Regions from separate parts of the Homo sapiens genome. Here all the other regions are linked to region 3. The links come from fine-mapping of genetic effects on gene expression. Tissue or cell type: whole blood. Region 3 holds a variant in brackets; each other region holds the start of a gene. All regions are shown on one strand. Distances are from middle to middle.

Region 1 (8,000 bases), 21 kb before region 3:
ACACCAGCACGCCCAGCTGAGCCCAGCCACGTCCACAGTTCCCCAGCTCCCTCAGGGCCCTCAAACCGACCCACTCCCCCTTTAGTGCTTCCCATGTTCAGGCTCCCCACAGACCCACCCAGGTACTCCAGCCAGGACCCTGGGCAGCCTGGACCTCTCTCCACCCCTTTGTCCTCACCAACCCTCCACACAAGTCACGGGAACCTTTCTAGATTCCAACTCTAACATCCCTCTTTCACCAAAGACCTTCCGCTGCCTCGGGATAAGTCCAAGCACCCCCCTCAAGTGCTTTGGCTCCAGCTGGGGCTCCTGCACCCTGCATCTCCCCCTCATCCCTCCCACACTTGCCCCCACTGGCCCCCACGGAGCAGGCAATGCAGAACTAGGGCTGGGAATGCTTGCTAGGTGTTTGTGCTCAGAGCATGGCCAGGGACTCTGTCAGAAGTGCTAACTCTGCAGGGGAATCCAAGGCTCTGAAGTCCAGGAAGCTTGGCCCCCAGCCTCCAGGCAGGGGACATGTGGCAGATCCCATGCCCTGGGCCTGGGTCTGAGGCCAGCTCTTACATTGCTGGCTGTGATTTGGGGCAAGTCTCAGCCTCCTCGTGCTTCAGTTTCCCCATCTATAAAACAGAGACAGTAGCTCCCGTTGCACAGACTAAATACATTAACACAGAGTGTGGGGCTGGGTCAGGGTCAGCTTGGGAGGTTACTTCTTTCTTCTGCTGCTGCCCCTGATCCCACAGAATGCCAGAGGCACAGCCTGCTCGCGGCCTTTCCGGGAAGGGGAGGGTAACAGGTGTCAGGTACTTTACCTCCCCTGCTCCTCCATGGGCCGAGATTGGGGGAGGGGGGTGACAGACTCCCAGACCTGCGCATCAGATGGGGGAACCAGGGGACAGTCCCCCAGCAAATGGAGGGTTCCAGGGGCCAGAAAGCGGGCCCCAGCCTGGCCAGTCCTGCAGAGGGGGCTGGGCAGTCTCTGAGCCCAGGCCGTGGTCACCCCTCCGGAGGCAGCAGGAAATAGCCTGGCCAAGCTCACAGCCAAGGCCCGCAGCTCCCGCTTCCCTTCGGGCCCGTTTCCTTTATCCGGTTGTTTTGCTCCGAATTCACCAAGTCCAGCCTTCCCCTCCCCTCAATTTCCACCCCCGGCCCCGGTCCAAAGTGGAGCAGGACGGATACGTGACGTTTTAGGGGCCCCAGGAGTCCCCCGCTCTGCCCTCCGCCCAGCCGGGAGCCGCTGACAGAGCCGGAGCGCGCCCAGCGTCCCGCGTCCGCCCTCTGCTGCCCGAGGCTGGGAGCGGCGGCTCCGCCCCGTCCAGGTGCCACAGGAAGTGCGGGTCTCCGCATTCCCCCTCCACCGCCCCCCGCCACCGAGGCGCAGATCCCGGGGCGGTCCTAGGCCCACAGAGAGGCAGGCGAAGGGAGTGCCGGACCCGCAGCGCCAGCTCCGTTTATTGAGGCCTTCGGCGCGTGGAGGGCGGGCCTCCTCCGTGACCCAGCGGCGGCCAGGCGCGCTCCCTTCTCCAAGTCCTGGGCCCTCCGGGGAGCGCGGGCTGCGTCGAGCGAGGGGCCGAGGTCACCAACAAGTCTACAGAACGAGGCGCGTCTCCAGGCTCTGCCGCGGCCCCGCTGGTTCTCCTCCCCGCGCAGGGCCAGGACGGGCCGCGCTAGGAGTCCCTGGAGGCCGGGGCGCGCAGCGCGAAGAGCTTCTCCCAGCAGGTGGCGACGGCGTCCAGGGCGCGCAGCAGGAGCTGCCTTCGGCCGCCGCGACGCCGGGCAGGGCGCATCTTGGGCCGCCGGCTCCGCTGTCGGGGACAGGGCGGTCAGCGAATGCGCACGGCCCCCGCGCCCGGCCCGGCCCGGGAAGGGAGACGCGACCCAGCCCGACTTCAGCCTAGGGCCGTGGAGCCCCGGGACGCGCGGCGGCCCTGTGGGGGTTAAGGGAGGTCTGGCTCTGGGTGCACTCAGGGACGCACACCTGGCGCAGCGTCCTGCAGTGGCGCCGCATCACCGCCTCGGTGCGCACAGCCACGGTCCAAGCAGCTCTCTCCAGGGCCCCGCGGCGGCCCCCGGCCACCGCCCCGCGCAGGGTCCGACCCAGGGACGAGATGGACAGGAGGATACTGTGCTCCTGGGGAGGGAAGGGAGGAAGGCGGGGTGGGGGTGGGGGGAAACTGAGAGAGGAGCAGGCCGGCGAGCTTGGGTAGGGGCGCCTCCTCCATACCTTCTGGGCGCCACAGGAGGCCCGAGGCCGTCCCCGCCGTCCCGAGCTCCCGGGTCTAGTCAGGTTTTTCTGTATGAAATGAAAGTGTCTGGAGCCTGGCCTGGTCTTTTCGGCCCCCGCCCCGCCCCACTTCACGGCGGCCTGCAGATCCTCGAAGATGATGGCGCGATAGTGGCGGAGCACGTCGGGGACGCTGCAGGCCGGGGAATAGGCGCGGCTTGGCGCGGTCCCCAGCAGCGCCAGCAGGAGCGCCCAGAGTGCAGGCTTAGGGGGTACCTGGAGGAGACAGCAGGTTGGGGTTAGGCCTGGGGGGTGTTCCCAGCACAGGGAGCAGCCAGCCCACCTGCACTTTGTTTCCGTAGAAGCCCCACCCCCTGCCCCACCCCACGGGATCTCTGAGCGAATGAAATGGACGTGTCACCAATCAAGAAAGGCTGTAGGCACAGGCCTGGCGGGATAAATCAGGAGACACAAGAGATAGGTCTGCAAACCAGACAGTTCTATGCTCCCTGCAAAGATGTGAAAGGGGTGAGTGATGTCGGCTGGGAGGCGATGTCACTGAGTCCTGAAGAACCCATCAGGAGATAGAGGGGGCAGGCCCAGAGTCAGGAGAGCCTGGCTCTGTGGTCCACGTGGGAGTGGGGCCAGCAAGGGGTGGAGCACCCTCAGGACCGCACAGAGCAGGGCCCCCCACCAGCCCCGTACAGCTCTAGTGGGGCTGGTCTGCAGGCTCTTGGGGGTACAGTAGGAAGTTGTCCCAGTACAGCCTGTCTCACTCATGGCCATGCCCATTCAACTCCACACCTCCCATACTGGCGCCCTCTGGGTTAGCTCACAGAGACGTGGGAACTGGGGACTCCTTGTACCCCCAACCCAACTGGGGCAGGGGCTCAGAGCTCCAAGCCACACCCTATTGGAAGGGGAAAGCTAGGGGGACACCCAGAAGCTATAGAGGAGGAAGGAGCCACCACATCCAGCCCCAACCAACAGTCGCAAAAGGCCCCTCTGCCTGTACCAGCCGCCCCACGCCATCCCTCCGGGCAGCCTGTGCCACAGGCCTCCCCCGACCCAAAATGGAGGGCCTGCGCCCGCAGGGATAAAGCCCAAACATCAAGGAGACAGCTGACGGCCCCCAGGTTCCCAGCCACCCAAAAGGGGCCAGCCCCAACCCTTCCCCTGGGCCCCCAGGATGGAGTCAGACAGCAGATCTAGGGCTGGAAATTAATCATGCGAACCCAACCAAGATAAGAGGACTCGACTCGGCTTCCTAGCCCTGTCAGGGGAGCCTGAACAAGCAGCACCCCAACCCTTGCATAGAGCTGGGGGCCTGGTGGGCGGTGGCAGCTCCTGCTCAGAGCACAAAGCAGCAATGGCTGGAAGAGCAGATGGCTTGCTGTGGCCCCTTCCTGAAACCTGACCCCCCCAACCACACACGCCACAGCCAACTTGGTGGGCTCAGAATTGCCACGTCATTCCCTCTGCCTGCTCTGGGTCAGAGGTCATAGCGAGAACCAGAGCCTGACTCCTGAGCAGGCCAGCTGGAGCTGCAAGGATGTCCAGCACCTGCTGTGTCCCACCCAGGTGGGGCAGACTGGCTGCCCTGGGAGTCCCAACTGGCCTGTTAGTACCACTTCCAGGCTCAAGCCTCAGCCCAGCTTAGAACAGGGTTGCCCGGCACCCAGGAGCCCCCCTCCCCCAACTGCCAGAAGCCAGGGCACATGCACCCAGTGCCACCCACAGGGACGCAGTGACCAGAGCCAACCGGAGATTTCCTGGTGGGGCTCAGGGGAACAAGCAGTGTCTCCTGAGCTGTGTGTACCCCCAGCCCCTCCACCCAAGTAAGCCCCCTCCCTAGAGGAGGCCCACAGCTGCTCACCATGGGCCTTTCAGGGTCTTGCCCTCCCTCACTCCCGCCAGCAGGCCACGCACATGATCCTGGGGTCCTTGGGCAGGGTGTGCACTGCCGCACCAGGTCCAACACCAGCCAACCGCTTCCCTGGACAGGCTGCCTGGAGGACTGCAGAGGGGCAGGCCAGGCGGAGGCTTTTGAAGTTGGCTCCTCCAAGCTGAGGGAGGGAGCAGGAGAGGGAAGGAAAGGCCACGCAATCCCAGCCCTGCCCCCTCCCTCTCTCCACTCCCTATCACTTCAATTAACCTGGCCCTGGAGCTGGGCAGCCACCTCTCCCAGGGGATCCAGGGCTACTGTGGGTCTTGGATTAACTTGTCCGTCCCAGAGATACTGTTCTGTCAAGGAGGGGTGAGGCGCCGCGTGGGCTGGGGCAGTGCAGGGCCCAGCTGGTGGGGGAGGGGAGCCAGGTGAGACTGGGGCCGACTCTGTGGCCAGCAAGTGCTGCCTCTCCCAGGGATCTGGCTGATGGGCAGAGCTGGTGGGAGGCCCTCATCCCCTCCCCAGCTGCCGGACCTGCAGCCTGACATCCAGGGGGCCCTGCCCCAGCAGGTCCCAAGACATGGGGCTTCCCGGGCCCCCGCTGCTGGCCCGGCCTCACTCCTCCTGGGCTGAGGGGTCTCTGGCTGAAGAGGTAAGTCTGAGGCTGTTACTCTGCTGCCTGCCGTAAAGATACCCAGGAGCAGGGTGGGCTCCCCCGATCCTTGGCTGCTGTCGCTTCTGCTGTGGTCTGGGGCACTCTGGTTAGCAGCCTGACAGGCAGTGGTGAAGAGGCACCTCAGAACACGAGCAACCTCTGAGGCACAACTCATCTTTGCAGGCTGAAAAAATTTCAGTTGAAGACAAGTTAAGGTAGTTTCCCAGGGGGAAAAGTCAGTGACTCACAATAGTCAAGAACAGACCACACAGGTGACAGGAGTCCCCTAGGATTGTAACACTGCATCTTTACGTTTTTGCCTTTTCCGTGTTTGGATGTGATTAAATGCTGTGACAGGCTGTGCAGGTCTGCAGCCCAGGAGCCCCAGGCTCTGGCACCCGGGCACACAGCCTGGGGGTGCAGGAGGCCGTGCCTGCCAGCCTTGTGTAAATGCACTCTTTAATGTTTGCAAGACGACATCACCTAACGAGGTTTTTCTCAGAATGTATCCGCACTGTTAAGTGGCGCACAACTGTGGTTTGGCCAACTCAAAGCATTTGAGAAAACCCCACACAGGCAAGAAAGAGGAGACACTCACACATGGACAATGTAAGCGCTCCGGAACTTTCCAAGGGCCCTGCAGGAAGTATCCCCTGAACATGGCCTGAAACATTCTTTTCTGTGTGACCCCTCAATGCCCACCCAGCACTGGCCATTTCAGCTCTGAGGTCAGAGAAGGGCTTCCTTCCTACGCCTCGGTTTCCACATCTGTACAGGGCCAGGCTGGCTCACAAACTTCCTGGGCCTCGGTTTCCACATCTGTACAGGGCCGGGCTGGCTCACAAACTTCCTGGGCCTCGGTTTCCACACCTGTACAGGGCCGGGCTGGCTCACAAACTTCCTGGGCCTCGGTTTCCACATCTGTACAGGGCCGGGCTGACTTCACAAACTCCAAAAAGCTGCAGGACTCTCTTCATCTTCAGAATAAATGTTGAGGGCTCCCTCATGCTTCCGTCTCTCCATGAGGGATCAAAGGAAACTCCTCCACAAGTTCCAGTGAAAACACTCATGAAGCTCCTGCAGCTGCTCCTCAGGACGGGGCGAGAGGAAGGACTTCCACATTCCAACGATTTGAGCTGGACCCCAGGTTGCCTGCCCAGCAGAGACCAACCAGCAGTTCCTGACCCCATACAGGGGTGGCAGGTCCCTTGCCCGGGATTGACCATGTCCTCAAGGTCCCCAGAACCACAGGGAAGGGGGACCCACACCCACATTCTGGTCTACCAGGACCGCCCCACGTGCAGGCAGGGATCTCCCACCCCAGCCATTCTCACTCGTCAGGAGCAGGGCAGGCAGACCACAAGGCCTAGCACAGGCCCCCATGTGCAGGTGGGCAGAGCTGTGGGTCAGTGACTGACCACCACCACAGGCCCTGCCATCGGTACCACAAGACAGGCCGGGACCCTCCAGGGCTCCCCTCTCACAAGGAACATCCAGGGACAGCTGCTCTCCAGCAGCCTCCTCAGCCCACATGACAGCGCCCTCCTCCCCGCCCGCTGGCCTCAACGACTGTCCACCCACACCCTCTGGGCCAGCCATGACCTCCAGCCAGATGTCTCTAGCCCCGGCCTACACAAGAACCAGCTGGCTCCCAACTGAATGCACACACATGATCCCAGGCCTGAGGACGTCCTTTATCCTTACACAGCTAAGGCTGAAGAGAAGCCAAGTCTCTCGGGTGATCAACGTTCAACCTAGAGATGAGAACCATCACTGTTCAACCTGGAGATGAGAACCATTACAAGGGCTTTAGGGTTAAACTGCGAATGATAAATTAGCAAAGATAAACTCACGGCCGGGTGCGGTGGCTCACGCCTGTAATCCCAGCACTTTGGGAAGCTGAGGCAGATGGATCACCTGAGGTCAGGAGTTTGGCAGCGGGCGCCTGTAGTCCCAGCTACTCGGGAGGCTGAGACAGGAGAATTGCTTGAACCCAGGAGGCAGAGGTTGCAGTGAGCCGAGATCGTGCCACTGCACTCCAGCCTGGGCGACAGAGCGAGACTGTCTCAAAAATAAAAAAATGAACTCACCTCCAAAAGAAAGAACGCCTCTTACTGGTGACACTGTCACTCAGCACATGCCTGAGGGGCCCGGGAGGCTGTGTGGAGAGGCCCTGCGCAGAGCTGGGTTCTCCTGTTTGCACTCAGACCCCAGGGAGGCCCCAGCTGTCCCCTGACCAAGACCCTTGCAGGCGGCTGCCAGGCTCCTGCGAGCACCTGCGTCCTGCATGCAGCTTGGTCCCCACTGTCTCCAGCTGTCCTCACAGGGCTTTTGGCCAGAACATCTGCACCCCTACCACCTTCTCCACAGTCTTGGGGAACCCGGGCACCTCCACAGTGCCTCCTCTGTGAGACACCGGCTGTCTGCAAGAGGCTTCTGTCCAAGCAAGGGCGATCACAGCCACCCCAGGACGGCATGGGACAGGCCAGGACAGGCCAGACTGGGGCAGCAGAAGCAGGAGCCAGAGAAGGGCCCCAGAGAAAACCAGCAGGCTGCCTGTTCTGACACGAGACATAAAAACTTTTAATGAAGGAGGACACAGCTCAGAGCCCTTCCACATGCGGCCCAACCCTGCCCCACGGAGACCGGCCATGGCAACCGCTCAATCAGAAGGTGTTCTTGATGCGGCCGGCCACCAGCCTAAGGATGTCCCCGATCTTCTTCTGCCAGTTGGCGATGTCCTTGGACACGGCGCACCACAGCTCCCCATGCCGAGGCTCTGCACTCTCACAGCGCTTCCTCACCTCCTCCTGCTGCTCCTGGGGGGACCACAGGGCACGTCAGGCAGGGGTCCTCCCACGCTACTCCCCGGACCTCGCCTGCTTCTCGCCTGGCCCCTGCAGACCTGGCCCTGGCAGCACCAACCCCAACTGGCGGGCCAGAGGGCACAGGCCCTGCACCGGAAGGCAAGGCTCTTTCAGGTGTGTTCCTCAAAGGAGCCCCACCTCCTGAGGAGCATGGACCCCACCAGCCTCAGCCCACAGATGAGGAACTGAGCCAGGCTCCCCATGTCTGTGCCTCACACAAGTGCTCACGTCTGCCTTCTCCAAACAAGGAGTTAGGGTTCACGTGGGCTGGCAACACTTTCCAGGGAGGACCAGGACAGCCTGACTGCCTCCAGCACAGCTCAGACAACGCTTGGCTCTAGCGGGGCGGGTGGGAGCAGAGGGGCT
Region 2 (8,000 bases), 34 kb after region 3:
TCTCAAACCCCTGGGCTCTAGCTATCGTCCTACCTCAGCCTCTCAAAGTGCTAGGATTACACACGTGAGCCACTGCGCCTGGCCACAAAACTTTTTTTTAAACTTGGATAAATATTGTGAAAGGCAACAATTTCTTTTACCGTCTTTCTTTTCTTCTTTCATCCATCCTTTTATCCAGGGCTGCATAGATAGCATCTGCTTCCTCATCATCTTTCTCGTAGGGTCCACTTGAGAAGAGGCTCCCAGCATAGCCATTAAACTGAGAAGCAAACAACACGTGTAGAGGTCAGCTTTTCCTTCAACACCATCCCCACCAGCGAAACGGAGATCTCTACTTGTGAAATACTTGCTAAATTATTTTCTTCAGCCAACGAAGCCAAATCAAGGGACAGTCTACCATATAACTGGTGACTACTCTTCAAGCGTCAAGGGCATGGAAGACAGAGGAGACCCCCAATTGGAAGGGACCAAGGAGACATGACGAAATGCAATGGGGGATCCTGGACTAAGCCTAAGCCAGAAAGCGGACATTCATGGAAAAACATGAAATGCAAATACGACTGACAAATTAGTTAATAGTACTGTGTCAATGTTAACTCCTTCGTTTCAATAACTGCACTAAGGTCATGTAACATCGGGAGAAGCTTGGTGAAAGACATGCAGAAACTTTTTTTTGGGGGGGCACTATTTTTGCAAATTCCTGCAAATTTAAAATTATTTCAAAACTAATTTTTTTTTTTTTTCTGAGACAGAGTCTCGCACTCTCGCCAAGGCTGGAGTGCAGTGGCGCAATCTTGGCTCACCGCAACCTCCGCCTCCCGGGTTCACAGCATTCTTCTGCCTCAGCCTCCCGAGTAGCTGGGACTACAGGCACATGCCACCATGCCCGGCTAATTTTTGTGTAGTTTTAGTAGAGACGGGGTTTCACCATGTTAAACAGGATGGTCTCGATATCCTGGCCTCATGATCCGCCCACCTCGGCCTCCAAAAGTGCCAGGATTATAGGTGTGAGCTACCGCACCTGGCCTCAAAACTAAAATTATTTTTAAAAATTTTCCTCAGAGGAAAAATGTCATCTGTTAGAAGACAGTTAATCGGTATTCAGTCAGCTGAAGTTTTTCTTTAGATGTCTGTTTAGAGGGCAATCACTAAAGCTAAAAAAAGCAAATACTATCACCAATTCCACTTTAAGTTTTTATCATTAAAGACTGGCAGCCAGGCGCAGTGGCTCACGCCTGTAATCCCAACACTTTGGGAAGCCGAAGCGTGCGGACAACCTGAAGTCAGGAGTTCGAGACCAGCCTGACCAACATGGAGAAACCCTGTCTCTACTAAAAATACAAAATTAGCCAGGCATGGTGGCGCATGCCTGTAATCCCAGTTACTTGGAGACTGAGGCAGGAGAATCGCTTGAAATGGGGAGGCAGAGGTCACAGTGAGCTGAGATCACACCACTGCACTCCAGCCTGGCCAACAAGAGCGAAAGTCCGTCTCAAAAAAAAAAAAAAAAAAAGACTGGCCAATAGGAAATGCCAAGGCAGTGGTCCTAACACCTGCAAGAACATCTCTTCCGACAAGAGCGAAATTCCATCTCAAAAAAAAAAGACTGGCCAATAGGAAATGCCAAGGCAGTGGTCCTAACACCTGCAAGAACATCTCTTCCGACAAGAGCGAAATTCCGTCTCAAAAAAAAAAAAGACTGGGCAATAGAAAATGCCAAGGCAGTGGTCCTAACACCTGCAAGAACATCTCTTCTGAGGGACAAAAAGTGCACATTTCTCCGTGTTTTTCCTGCTCCCTCTCACTCTCAGTAAAGATGTTCCATGAATAGCTAAAATTTAAATGCATGAGCCACTCCAAGCCATTCATTACAGACACCAACACACACTGGTTAGGTCAGCTGCTCCCAGAGACTGGCTGGAGGAGCCACGAAAGCCGGACACATCTCACCTCATCGTAATTGGTGTCATTTAGATCCTCGTCGTCATCGTCAGCAGCCTGATTTTTCTTCATCTGGTCCCCAACGGTTCTCTTGCCTGGGGGTGCATGGCGATCATCCACAGGGTCATTTGCATCACGGGCGGGCCCAATGTCTGACCGCGTGGTGAAGCCAGTGGCGCTGCAGGAGACCCCCAAGACACCGGGTGTCTGAATAACTCTGTTCCTGTGCTCTTCTCCACTCCTGGTTATCACTTACTAACACCTCTTTTTCTAACACCTTTGGGAAACCTCCAAAGATCCTGGTGACAATGAACTGCAGTCTCAAACACTTCTGATCTTCTCTGCTTACCTGAAAGTTTCAGCCTACCCTGATGATGTTACCAAGGCAATCTCTCTCCACCCTAAGGCTTCGATCATCTCCCCCTCCACATCCAACCAGGCCCTTAAACCCAACTTGGCCCACACTGAGCTCTTCCGTGCCCACCTTACAGCTGCTCTGGGGGGTTTCAGCTGATAACAGCTGTCCCAGATGCCACGGGACCATGATGTAATTTTTGCCTCCCTCTCCCACTTTCCCCATCCTGTCTGTCCCCAAGTACTAATGAATCCACTTTCAAAATCCCTCCTTCCCAGACTATGACTCCCATCACAGCTGGAAACCAAGTTACCTCTCCCTGCCTTTAGCCTTCCTCTACTTCAACCCATGCTCTGCCAGATGATTCTTCCCAAAACACAGCTCTGAGTAAAAAATTCTGGGCCGGGCGTGGTGGCTCACGCCTGTAATCCCAGCACTTTGGGAGACGGAGGCGGGTGGATCATGAGGTCAGGAGTTCAAGACCCCCCTGGCCAACATGGTGAAACCCTGTCTCTACTAAAAATACAAAAATTAGCCGGGCGTGGTAGCGGGCACCTATAATCCCAGCTACTCAGGAGGCTGAGGCAGAGAACTGCTTGAACCCGGGGGGCAGAGATTGCAGGGAGCTGAGATCGCACCATTGCACTCCAGCTTGGGCGACAGAACAAGACTTTGTCTCAAAAAATAATAATAATAATAATAATTCTGAAGGGTCATGATCTTTCTAACGTCTCCAGGAGCTCTAGCCTGACGCTCAAGGCCCCTCCAACCTCCTGAGCTCTATTCTATTCGCTGTACATTCCACTCACACTGGACTCCCTCCTGTTCCCTGGGCTTCCTCCTTGCCTCACTTTTTTTGAACTCCCACACGCAGAATGTCAGTTTCTCTTCTATCGTCACCGTTTCTACAGCCCTAAGTCCAGCTCTCTTACTAAACTTGGCTCCAATGCTACTCTCCATTAAGCACTGGGTTCTAAATCTGGTCCTCTTTACGTACTTATTTATGGTAATAGCAAACCCTCCTTAGTGAGCTTGTGTGTGCCCCACAGATTCCAATATAATACCACCACCAAGAAAAACCCAGTAGTGTTCCTCATCAAATGAATAGCCAAATAGGATAATAACGACTGCTCACTTATCCAGCAACGCACGGTGGTCATCTGTGTTGCAGGCATAGAGGACCCAGGCACGCTTAAGGCGGGGCGGGCGGGCGGGCGGGGGGGGGGAGTGTCAGCCCGACCTGAGGAAGGTGGTCGCGTGTTTCCACTACACGTCAGATTCCTCTACTCCTCACTGCAGACCGTATACAGCATTACCCATCTTACAGACCAAAACACTGGGCTGAGAGTCAATGTGTCACATCTAGGCGGCAAGCAGGGTGCACACACAGGTATGTCCTGACCCCAAAGCCCGTTGCTTCCTGCAGGGATTAAGCCGATCCACCAAGCGTCTTTCAGACTGCGCGGCCATAGACCCCCGCCCCCAAACACGCCCCAAAGCACTGCGCTCCTGTAGCCGGGTCCCCGCCCCTCGCGCGCCGCCCCAGGCCTCACCCCCGGCCCAGCCCCGGCACGTAGCCGAGGGGCGCGGGCATCCCTAGGAACGGTTTCTTCTTCTTGTTCATGGTGGCGGCGACGACCAAGGCTAGGAAGGAAAGGAATGAGGCAGCGGAAGAGGGAAAGACGCAGAGACTCTAGGCTTCGACGTCCGATGCACTCCGTAGCAAAGTGTCGCCGTCGTCGCGTCACCCGCGCCCCGGAAGCAGAGCGCTCAGTCCGCACACGCCCCGCCCACTTTTGATTCCCTGGGCGGAAGTCCCGACGTCCTGGTTCGACGACTTCCGGCCGCGGCTAGGGGGCAGGAACGTGGTAGGCGCGTGCGCGGGAGCGCCTCCTCGTGGAGAGGCGGAAGAAGCTAGGTCGAGCTTGCACTGGGACCCTAACTGGCCCCTGGGGGCTAAAAACAGCCTGGGGCATTGCTGCTTCCCGAGTGCTCTGATGCAGTCCGGAGACCTGTCTGTGAGAGTGGGACCCATGGTCCCCTCCCTCTGAACCCATGGCCCCCTCCCTCTGAACCAGCCCAGCTGCCCGCCCTCGCCCCTGGTGCGCCCTGTCCGAGCAGAGCTGTACCCTGTCCAGTTGTGTAGAGCTTGTGTGTACTGGTTATGGGCACACCTGTCTGTGTGCGTCCTGTGCGCACACTGCTGCCCTACGCTTTTAGCACTCATATTCTTGAACCCCCATTCAGGCATCTGTCCCTCCAGTGGGACTAGAGACCCCACCCACGCCCGCCAACATGCCTTGGACATTCTGGTGAGGGCCACATCCTTAGCTCCTGGAGAGCTAATTGACGAAATAAATAACCGCAGCTGAGCTGTCGGGAACACGTCAGTACATGAACATGGCTGTCAAGCATGTGGGTGAATTCTGTGTGTGTGATTAGTGGGGTGTGTGCACAGAGGTCACGTGTGCTCGTGTTTTGGGTGCAAGTGCATGACTGTACTCTGTGCATGCATTTCTACATGTCTGTGTGCATCTCTGGTCCTCCTGCTGTAAGACATCCTCCAGAGCCCCTACATACACCCAGGGAGAGCACCCAGGCTCCTGGGCAGAGCAAGCCGAATAGCTGGTTGCAAGCCTGGCCTGCTGCTGCACCAGGCAACCACAGTTCCCTAGCCCAGCCCCATCTCAGCACTTCTCACTGGAGTCCTGGAGCAAACACACCGCTCCGGCCTGCTACAGCCTCCTTGGAGTTCCCCTCTGCCCCATCTCCAGGCAAGCCAAGCCCCTTTCAGTTACAGAGCACTGTACCGCCCCCTCTCCCCCGGGCACTGAGCCAGGTTCTGGGGCTGCAGAGGGAAGGGAGAACCACCCTGATGTTCACAGTGGGGTGGGCGGTAAGCAAGAGTCAAGCTGGTTTCTCCGGGGAAGCGGGTGCCTATTTGAAGGCGAGTAAAGACGTAGGAGACCGAGGAAAGTGTGTGGGAGGCGTTGACCTGCCCCTTGTCCTGGCCCCGGTAGGTAGAAGACCCCTGTGAGATGCCCCTCAGCCCACCCCCACGCACAGAGGGGCCCGACCTCAGAGGACGCCCGGCAGGTTCACGGGGACTCTCCTCCGCGGAGCCGTGCCCAGGGGCGCACGGACGCCCCTCGCCCTGGCGGACAGCCTTGGTGCACGCAGGCCCGCGCGCCGCCGACACACCTCGGAGCTCCCGGAGCGCGCCCGGCACACAGGGCTCGGCGGCAGGTGCCTCGTCGCGCACACTCGCGGGCCGCGGGGACCGGCTCGGGCGCGGGGCCGGCTGGGGCGGGGCGGGGCGGCGGCGCGCGTTCCCCGCCGGCCACACCGGCCGCCCTGCACTCGGCGAGGGGCGTGTGCGCGGGCCTGGCACCCGCGGGCCCCATGTTCACCGAGCTGAGGTCCAAGCTGAGCCCCCCGCGTGGCCGCGCCGGGGCCGTGCGCGCGGGCTTCGGGGAGCGCCGGGATGTGGACGGTGAGCGGGGCTGGATTGGGGAGCGGGGATTTCTCGGGCGGGGGTCTCAGGGACCCAGAGGCACGGGGGCGGGGCGGGACCCGGCGGGCTTCGAGCGGCGGTGGCTGGGGGTATTCGGCGGATGTCTCGGCTCAACGGGGTCCCGTAGCCTTTGTCCTGCTTTAGGGGGCAGCCAGCCTCAGGCCTTGGGGGTCAGCGCGCCCTTGGCTTGGGGTGAGGGGGTGTCAAGCCGGGGCGCCTGTGTCCAGGCTGGCACTACGCTCGGGTCACCTTTTCCTGCGCACGGGGAAAACCCTCCCCCGCTTTTGCAGTGGGGCCGAAAGGGGGCCGAGGTCACATCCCGCCTCGGTGCCCCCGCCCCATTTCCTTCTGGAATCCTGACGTTGGGGCGGGAGGGACCGGACCGACAGACCGCGGGACGGACGGAACTCCCTCCGGGAGTGCAGGCAGGAAATGGGCGGAGCCTGCTTGGCCGGGGCAGGTGCCGTGCGGGCTGAGGAGTCCGACGGGTTTCCCCGGACTGCCGCGCGCTTCTGCACCAGCCCCGCCGCTCGAGGCCCTGCAAAGCCCGGCGACCACGGCGCCTGTCCGCTGGAAGGCGCGGGCTTAGAATAAGCCTTTTCCCACAGCACTAGGGGCCACCTCGGGGCGGTGGCCCACTGAGCACACCCTCTGCTGACCCCAGACCTCAAATTTGGAGTCACCCAGGGGTCCGGTTCCTGAAAGTTGCAAGAATGGGGGCGGAAGGTGTTATGTCTCCTAAGTCTTACAGGCGTGGGAGGACGGGGAAGTAGGATGTGGTTTTCACCGATACTTAGACCTCCTAGACACATCCCCAACCCCTGCCCTGGGTGTGGAGTGGGTGGCTGAGTCTGAGGCCGGGAGGGTCTCTCACTCTAGGGTGGATGGGATGAGGGCCCTAGCGTGGGAACCTCACCTGCCCTGCTGAAGGCCTGGGTGCTAGGGTGCTGTAAAGACAGGGGCAGGCCTGTGCCCACCTTCTGTCTCCCCACAGGCTCTGTTCACTTGCAGATACCATACAGAGCCTTCATTCATTCATTCATTGACAATGAATGTGGGGTGCCCCTCTGTAACCAGACCTGGATCAAGACGCCTGCCTCCCCAGACTCAGGTCAGCAGTGCCCCCAGAGATGATGACAAAGCTCAGATGAAACACTTTAATGCAGTTACTGTGGGAAGAGGGAGCACAGAGCATCACCGTGGGTCCCCAAGCAATGGCTGCACCCCACATACCTGTGCTGACCCGCCCATATCCAATGGGTACCCACCATTCACATGGCCGGTGTTGTCCCGGGCTGCAGGCCCTGTGGGGGGCGGCACAGCTGGAGAGCCCAGCGCGTGTTTGCGGAGTGAGCCCTGCTTGTCAGTTGGCCCACAGTTCAGGCTGTCAATGAGTCATAGTCAGTGAGTCGGGCCCCAACACCAGATAGGGCTGTGTGAACTGGGTGCCTTCAGTGGCGATGGGCAAGCAGCATCCTCAGCCCGGTTTCCCCAGCACAGACGACCTCCCCGGACTCGGGATCTGCCTTTCCTCAAAGCAGGCCGTGTGTGCACTTCCTGGTCTGGTGTGGTGTGTGCAAGACTTGTGGGCCAGCCCAAGGCAAGGGTGAGGTCAGGGCTGTCCCAGGATAGCTCCTCTTGTCATATGTCTCAGGTTCCCTTCCCTAGAGGGCACATCCTCTGATCTAAGAATCCATCCTGCTCCCCTGGGTGAGGGCTGTAGACTTGCAAGATGAAAGGTGTTTCCAGTTCTTCTCTTTTTGTGCTGGGTGAGGTCCTCGAAACAGGTCCTGCACACTTCCTTCTGCCTTTGGAGGCTTGGGAACCCCTCATTGGGGAGGTGATTTCCCGCACTAGTGTGGAGGAGATGGGGCAGGGAGCTAGCTCTCAAGTAGAGGAAGCCTCTGGTTCTGCCCTTGACTGCCCTGACCAGGCACCCCCACACACAGCCACTGCCCACTTCAGCTTCTGCCGGACCCTCCTGGAGCACACGGTGTCAGCTGAGAGCATCCCCTGCCACTTGCCTCGGACACCTGGCACCAGCCTCACGTGGCATGACTCCCGCAGCCAGAGGGCGGCCAGCAGCAGGCCAATCAAGCTCCTGCAGCAGCCCGGCACAGACACCCCCCAGGTACCCACCCACTCCACCCACCTCCGTCCCTGCCCTCCTTCTCCACCACTCTCACTCTG
Region 3 (8,000 bases):
GGGAAGCAGCACCACAGCACACTTCTGGGCACAGAAAACACTGTCCTCCTTACTCTAGCATCACGAGCACTTTGAAAAACAGCTGTGCTTACTCCAGTGTATGTGAAAGAGATGACAAAATAATAAGAGAAAAACAGGCCAGGAGCAGTGGCTCTGGGAGGCTGAGGCAGGTGGATGGCCTGAAGTCAGGAGTTCGAGACCAGCCTGGCCAACATGGCGAAACCTCATCTCTATAAAAAATATAAAAATTAGCCAGGTGTGGTGGCAGGCACCTGTAGTCCCAGCTACTCAGGAGGCTGAGGCAGGAGAATTGCTTGAACCCTTGAACCTGGGAGGCGGAGGTTGCAGTGAGCCAAGATCGTGCCACTGGACTCCATCCAGCCTAGGAGACAGAGTGAGACTCTGTCCCAAAAAAAAAAAAAAAAAAAACCAACAACAAAAACTATTACCGCTGCCCTGCGTCTTAACTCACCTAAGGATTGATGTGTGTATTTTAGCATACATGGGGCAGGAGGATGGCCCAGCCGGCACACAAGCTCTGGGTCACGCCACACGGGGTGCAAAAGAATCATGTGTGTATCACACGGTCAATGCCAGCAGTGGGGTCTGATTCCAAGGACCAAAGGAGGAGCCATTGACCAATCCAGATGGAAGGAAGTGAACGCACACGGATGAAGGAGAAAGTGAAGCTCTTCGTTACTGTAGAATTCCAACTAATAAAATGTAAGAGAAACTGTTCACAAAATCATTATGCAGGTGTGACCAGGCACAGTGACACGCCTGTAATCCTACATACTTTGGGAGGCTGAGGTGGGATCACTTGAGGCCAGGAGTTCGAAACCAGCCTGGACAACATAGTGAGATACTGTTTCTACAAAAAAAATTTAATATATAAAAAAAGATTTAAAAAAAATCACCATTTAGCAAACACCACAGAAATAACTGATTCAGGCCAAGAAGCATCATTAATGGATCCTCAAAATACTTATTAATAATAACAAAGAAACAAACAGCAACCATACAGTGGAAACACCTGCGGCCACTGCCCGCACCAGACGGTCGGAGTTGAACAGGTGCACACCTCTCCGTATGATGCACCAAGAAGCCTCAACCCAACCCGGAGGAGACACCACAGAGAACCAGATGAAAGAGGAGTCTACAGCATCACTGGCCCGTGGTCCTCAAAAAATTCACACTCAGGAACAACAAAGGCTGAGGCTCTCTTCCAGACTAGCCTGAGGATGACCCTGTATTCCTCACAGAAGACAGTTGGTTTTTTCTTCTGCTAAAAGGACACAGAGACAACGGGTGAGACTTTTTCTTTTTTTGAGATAGGGTCTTGCTGTCACTCAGGCTGAAGTGCAGTGGCGCAATCACAGCTCACTACGGCCCCAAACTCCTGAGCTCAAGTGATCCTCCCACCTCAGCCTCCTGAGTAGCTGGGACTACAAGCGTGCACCACCATGCCTGGCTTTTGTTTCTGTAAAGATGGTGTTCTGCCATGTTGCCCAGGCTGGTTTCAAACTCCCGAGCTCAAGCGATCTGCCCATCTCGGCCTCCCAAAGTGCTGGAATTACAGGCGTCAGCCCCATGCCCAGCCTGTGGGTGAGATTTGAGTAAGGTCTGAAGTTACCTGACAGCACTGTCCCAACATCAATGTCCTGATTTTGATAACTGAGCTATGGCTGTGTAAGAGAACGTCCTCTTTTAAAGAAATACACACCAAAGTGTTTAAGGTAAAGGGCACCACATCTGCAACTCATTCATTGTCAAACAGTTCCAGAAAAAAAAATAAGAGGTAAGTGCATGAGAGCGAACAGAGTAAGAAAGCAAATCTGCGGCCAGGCGTGGCGCCTCACGCCTGTGATCCCAGCACTCTGGGAGGCCGGGCGCGGCGGCTCATGCCTGTGATCCCAGCACCGTGGGAGGCCGGGCGCGGCAGCTCACGCCTGTGATCCCAGCACCGTGGGAGGCCGGGCGCGGCGGCTCACGCCTGTGATCCCAGCACTCTGGGAGGCCGGGCGCGGCGGCTCACGCCTGTGATCCCAGCACTCTGGGAGGCCGGGCAGGGCGGCTCACGCCTGTGATCCCAGCACTCTGGGAGGCCGGGCGCGGCGGCTCACGCCTGTGATCCCAGCACTCTGGGAGGCCGGGCGCGGTGGCTCACGCCTGTGATCCCAGCACTCTGGGAGGCCGGGCGCGGTGGCTCACGCCTGTGATCCCAGCACTTTGGGAGGCCAGGCATGGCGGCTCACGCCTGTGATCCCAGCACTCTGGGAGGCCGGGCGCGGTGGCTCACGCCTGTGATCCCAGCACTTTGGGAAGCCAAGGCGGGGTGGATCACGAGGTCAGGAGATTAAGACCATCCTGGCTAACACGGTGAAACCCCGTCTCTACTAAAAATACAAAAAATTAGCTGGGCGTGGTGGCACATGCCTGTAGTCCCAGCTACTCGGGAGGCTGAGGCAGGAGAATGGCGTGAACCCAGGAGGTGGAGGTTGTAGTGAGCTGAGATAGCGCCACTGCACTCCAGCCTGGGCGACAGAGCAAGACCCCGTCTCAGATTTAAAAAAAAAAAAAAAGAGTTTTAAAATAGCCTAGTAGTTTATAAGGTGCCTGCTGTTCCCACAAGCAGAGACTCCATATTACGGACAAAGGCCCCTGTTGCCAACTCACACTGTCAGCATCCTCCATCCAGGTATGCTTCCGATCTTCCTCCTCAATCCCAATCCCAATCACGGCACGCATGACGGCCTGGCAGGTGGCCACACTCCCAGCCCTGTCACATTCCTCGGCATCCTGAAAGAGGAACACAAAACTTATTTGTGATTTTGGAAATCAGAGCTGCAGATTCCCAACGGGGAGTACGGAGTTCCTGAACGGTTAAAACTGACAGACATCAGCACAAGATGCTGACACTGCCTACTGGGGATCTGAGGAAGTGAGTCTACTGCACGCCAATCAGAAAAAACAATAGAGAAATGTCACAAAGGACATAGGCACACTGTTCACTAGAAAATAAAAATACAAACAACTTTCAAACATGTGAAAAGAAATGTAAAGCCTTTTTATTTTATTTTTTTAAGAGACAAGGTCTCAGCCAGGTGTGGGGGCTCACACCTGTAATCCCAGCACTTTGGGAGGTCGAGGGTGGATCACGTGGTCAGGAGTTCGAGACCAGCCTGGCCAACCTGGTGAAACCCTGTCTCTACTAAAAAATAAAATACAAAAATTAGCCAGGCGTGGTGGTGGGTGCCCGTAATCCCAGCTTACTCGGGAGGCCGAGGCAGGAGAATCACTTGAACCCGGGAGGCGGAGGTTGCAGTAAGCCAAGATCACGCCACTCCACTCCAGCCTGGGCAACGGAGCAAGACTACGTCTCAGAAAAAAAAAAAAAAGAGAGAGAGTCAAGGTCTCTCCCTGTCACTCAGGCTGAAGTGCTGTGGTACAATCATAGTTCACTGCAGCTTCCAACTCCCAGGCTCAAGGGATACTCTCACCTCAGCCTCCCGAGTAGCACAGACATGCACCACCATGCTCAATGGTACATTATGTTTCATAGATACAGGGTCTCCTTATGTTGCCTAGGCTGGTGTTAAACTCCTGGTCTCAAGTAACCCTCCTGCTTTAGCCTCCCAAAGTGCTGGGATTAGTGCATAAGCCACCACACCCAGCCCCTATTCTTATTTTCAAGATGCTAATTAAACTATTCTAAGTACCATTGTGCACGTATCAGATGAGCAACATTGAAACATGTGCTGACTGGCTCACTTGGTGAAGGGGGCATAAATCTTATACTGCAAAGAAGCACATATCTCTATGGAGGGCAATTTCTCATTCTCTATCAAAATAAAACAGGCACATATTTGACCCAGCAGTTCTACTTTAAGGCATTCATGTGACAAATATATTCCCATGTGTGCAAGAGAATGTGTCTACCAACAAGAGAACAATAACCCAGCCAGAGCAACAGGGTGCAGGAGCACAGGCACCACTGCGGCATGCCAACATGGGGGACCACGACATGGACCGTGAGCAAAGTGCAACCGGAGCCACATGCCTCCCAGACCCTCCCAGGGCCCTGCCAGCACCAGAAAACCATCCCAGACAGAAAGCAGAGCCAAGAGCAAGGATCTGAGGCAGAGACGCTGGCACAAAGGTCAGTGGTGAGAAGAATGCGTGGGGCAAGGACCCAGCACCCAGACCCTCAGGGGCCTGCGGCAAAGGTGCTGGCTCTTCCTCCATGGACAGTTTCTACTGAACGCAAACTGC[G/A]CTGGCTCTTCCTCCATGGACAGTTTCTACTGAATGCAAACTGCTTTTGAACCACGGCAAAAGTCAAACCATGGGAAGTCAGGGACCATCTGTAGTTGCAAATCATGTCTCTGATAAGTGACAATATATCCAGAATATATAAAAACATCTCTTACAACTCAATAATAAAACAACAGACAAAAATAATACATAGACCATAATAAAGACACAATCCAATGTAAAAGTAGGCAAAGGATTTCAATACCTCCATGCTACAACATGGAGGAACCCTGAAAACACACTAAGTTAAGGCCAGTCACAAAAGACCACGTGTCGTGTGATTCCACTCACGGTGTCGGACGATGCAAAAGCCACCACGCTCAGTAGAAGCAATACTTTGACTCAAACCACCAGTCTGTTTTTCACTTTCATCGTAGCATTCAATAAATTACGTGAGTTATTCAACACTTTACGTTCGATGACTCTGCCCAACTGTAGGCTAAGGTAGGTGTTCTGAGCATGTTTGACGTAGGCAGGCTAAGCTGTAAAGTTCAGTAGGTTAGGTGTATCACACGCATTTTATTTCATTTTATTTTATTTTATTTATTTTTTGAGACAGAGTCTCGCTCTTTTGCCCAGGCTGGAGTACAGTGTCACGATCTCGGCTCACTGCAACCTCTGCCTCCGCCAGGTTCAAGCAATTCTCCTGCCTCAGCCTCCCGAGTAGCTGGAATTATAGGTGCCCACCATCATGCCTGGCTAATTTTTTTGTATCTTTAGTAGAGACAGGGTTTTACCATGTTGGCCAGGCTGGTCTCAAACTCCTGACCTCAAGTGATCCACCCGCCTCAGCCCCGCAATGTGCTGAGATTATAGGTGTGAGCCACAGCACCCAGCCTCAAATCCATTTTAGACTTATGATATTTTCAACTTACAATGGGTTTATCAGGATATAAGCCCATAAGTTGAACATCTGTATATAAAATGTCCAGAAAAAAATGTGTAGAGAAAGAAAGTAAAAAAACAAGGTTAGACAGGCACGGTGGCTCACGCTTGTAATCCCAGCACTCTGGGAGGCCGAGGCAGGTGGATCATCTGAGCTCAGGAGTTTGAGACCAGCCTGAACAACATGGCAAAACCGCGTCTCTACAAAAAATAGAAAAAAATTAGCCAGGTGTGGTGGCGCATGCCTGTAGTCCCAGCTACTCAGGAGGCTGAGGCAGGAGAATTGCTTGAGCCCAGGAAGCAAATGTGGCAGAGAGCCAAGATTGATTGCACCATACACTCCAGCTTGGGAGACAGAGACCCACCCTGTCTCAAAAAAAAAACAAAAACAAAAACAAAAGGCTACAGAGGTATGAAAATGGGGAGCAACAACTCACGGACACAGGATTTCTTTCTGGGGTGATGAGAAGGTTCTAGGATTGTGGTGATAGCGCATAGCTCTGTGAATATACTAAAACCACTGAATCGTAAACTTTAAATGGGTGGATTCTGTAGAACGCTAGTTATAGCTTAATAACCTGTCATATGCTGGGTATGGCAGCTGATGCCTGTAATCTCAACACTTTGGGAGGCTGAAGTGGCAGGATTGCTTAAGGCCAGGAGTTTAAGACCAGCCTGGGCAGCATAACAAGACAAAAAATAAAAATAAAAAAAATTGGCCAAGCATGGTGGCACACGCCTGTAGTCCCAGCCACTTGGGAGGTTAAGGCGGGAGGATTGCTTGAGCCCAGGTCAAGGATGCAGTGAGCCATGACTGCACCACTGCACTCCGGCCTGAGCAACACGGCGAGACCCTGTCTCAAGAAAGAAAGAAGGAAAGAAAGAAAGAAGAAGAAAGGAAGGAAGGAAAGAAAGACAAACTGTCATAAAATATAACAGAAAATAGTAATTTCATTATTTATTTTTCTTGAGAGAAACATAACTCAGTGGGTGACTCCTTAAAAGAAGGCATTAGAGGGAACCCAAGCCCTACTTCCTAAGTTAGATCATCTTTGGAAACTTTTCTATAGCCTTAAGTCTACAGACAAAGATAAAAGACAGGGAAGACCAAGGCGGGCAGGTTGCTTGAGGTCAGGAGTTCGAGACCAACCTGGCCAACATGGTGAAACTCTGTCTCTTCTAAAAATACAAAAATTAGCTGGGTATGGTGGCGGGTGCCTGTAATCCCAGCTACTCAGGTGACTGACGTAGGAGAACTGCTTGAACCCAAGAGGTGGAGGTTGCAGTAAGCCAAGATCGTGCCACTGCACTCTAGCCCTCTAGCCTGGGTGACAGAAAGACTCCCTCTCAAAAAAAAAAAAAAAAAAAGGGTGTGGGGGAGAGGGGAAGAGTAAAAGAAGCCATGAGACTTCCTGTCCTCCTCTCGTAGGTGTATCATTTCTACTAGCAAAGAAAGAAGCCATGAGACTTCCTGTCCTCCTCTCGTAGGTGTATCATTTCTACTAGCAAAGAAAGAAGCCGTGAGACTTCCTGTCCTCCTCTCGTAGGTGTATCATTTCTACTAGCAAAGAAAGAAGCCGTGAGACTTCCTGTCCTCCTCTCGTAGGTGTATCATTTCTACTAGCAAAGAAAGAAGCCGTGAGACTTCCTGTCCTCCTCTCGTAGGTGTATCATTTCTACTAGCAAAGAAAGAAGCCGTGAGACTTCCTGTCCTCCTCTCGTAGGTGTATCATTTCTACTAGCAAAGAAAGCCGTGAGACTTCCTGTCCTCCTCTCGTAGGTGTATCATTTCTACTAGCAAAGAAAGAAGCCGTGAGACTTCCTGTCCTCCTCTCGTAGGTGTATCATTTCTACTAGCAAAGAAAGAAGCCGTGAGACTTCCTGTCCTCCTCTCGTAGGTGTATCATTTCTACTAGCAAAGAAAGAAGCCGTGAGACTTCCTGTCCTCCTCTCGTAGGTGTATCATTTCTACTAGCAAAGAAAGAAGCCGTGAGACTTCCTGTCCTCCTCTCGTAGGTGTATCATTTCTACTAGCAAAGAAAGAAGCCGTGAGACTTCCTGTCCTCCTCTCGTAGGTGTATCATTTCTACTAGCAAAGAAAGAAGCCGTGAGACTTCCTGTCCTCCTCTCGTAGGTGTATCATTTCTACTAGCAAAGAAAGAAGCCGTGAGACTTCCTGTCCTCCTCTCGTAGGTGTATCATTTCTACTAGCAAAGAAAGAAGCCGTGAGACTTCCTGTCCTCCTCTCGTAGGTGTATCATTTCTACTAGCAAAGAAAGAAGCCGTGAGACTTCCTGTCCTCCTCTCGTAGGTGTATCATTTCTACTAGCAAAGAAAGAAGCCGTGAGACTTCCTGTCCTCCTCTCGTAGGTGTATCATTTCTACTAGCAAAGAAAGAAGCCGTGAGACTTCCTGTCCTCCTCTCGTAGGTGTATCATTTCTACTAGCAAAGAAAGAAGCCGTGAGACTTCCTGTCCTCCTCTCGTAGGTGTATCATTTCTACTAGCAAAGAAAGAAGCCATGAGACTTCCTGTCCTCCTCTCGTAGGTGTATCATTTCTACTAGCAAAGAAATGCAGTCAGGTGTGCACACACTGAAAGGGCTTCTGAAGTGTTCACCCCAAGACGAACTCCAGGCCTGAATCCATCAAGAGCGACAGTGGGCATGCCCAGGTCCCTCAGGGCCCATTCACACCTGTGCCTGCTTCTGGTTTGGCACAGGACTCCCCAGTACCATCCAGCAACCCCCAGTCCTGCGTGGGACTCTCACGTGCTGCATGTGCACTGTTAAAGCAGACACCACGA

What was found. PIP is the estimated chance that this variant, and not a neighbour inherited with it, causes the effect.
Region 1: it holds the start of C20orf204, and the variant in region 3 is fine-mapped to the expression of C20orf204 in whole blood (TOPMed, PIP above 0.99). The same link has a PIP of 0.9 or more in T cells.
Region 2: it holds the start of PRPF6, and the variant in region 3 is fine-mapped to the expression of PRPF6 in whole blood (TOPMed, PIP above 0.99). The same link has a PIP of 0.9 or more in T cells and blood mononuclear cells.

What each region holds. Positions count from the first base shown.
Region 1 is chr20:64,032,427-64,040,426 of GRCh38, reverse strand. C20orf204 (chromosome 20 open reading frame 204) reads right to left here and starts at 4,245. Exons shown (of 4, transcript NM_001387010.1): 1 at 4,101-4,245; 2 at 2,225-2,500; 3 at 1,979-2,131; 4 at 1,426-1,805. The coding sequence starts at 4,103. The coding sequence ends at 1,668. PRPF6 (pre-mRNA processing factor 6) reads right to left here. Exons shown (of 21, transcript NM_012469.4): 21 at 7,327-7,586. The coding sequence ends at 7,434. RefSeq lists silencers at 1,173-1,452, 1,643-1,962, 2,063-2,132 and enhancers at 2,778-3,371, 3,803-3,902, 3,372-3,965, 4,853-5,082.
Region 2 is chr20:63,977,166-63,985,165 of GRCh38, reverse strand. It overlaps PRPF6 (pre-mRNA processing factor 6), which reads right to left and starts at 4,034. Exons shown (of 21, transcript NM_012469.4): 1 at 3,850-4,034; 2 at 1,951-2,119; 3 at 141-259. The coding sequence starts at 3,920. It overlaps SAMD10 (sterile alpha motif domain containing 10), which reads left to right and starts at 5,524. Exons shown (of 5, transcript NM_080621.5): 1 at 5,524-5,789; 2 at 7,760-7,941. The coding sequence starts at 5,699. RefSeq lists silencers at 3,740-3,849, 5,410-5,729 and enhancers at 4,920-4,979, 5,575-6,090, 6,076-6,370.
Region 3 is chr20:64,011,522-64,019,521 of GRCh38, reverse strand. It overlaps PRPF6 (pre-mRNA processing factor 6), which reads right to left. Exons shown (of 21, transcript NM_012469.4): 12 at 2,677-2,799. Among named protein-coding and RNA genes, the nearest start is that of C20orf204, 21 kb to the left of the region's middle. RefSeq lists enhancers at 1,624-2,823, 6,881-8,000. The variant G/A (reference allele first, on the strand shown) is at 4,273.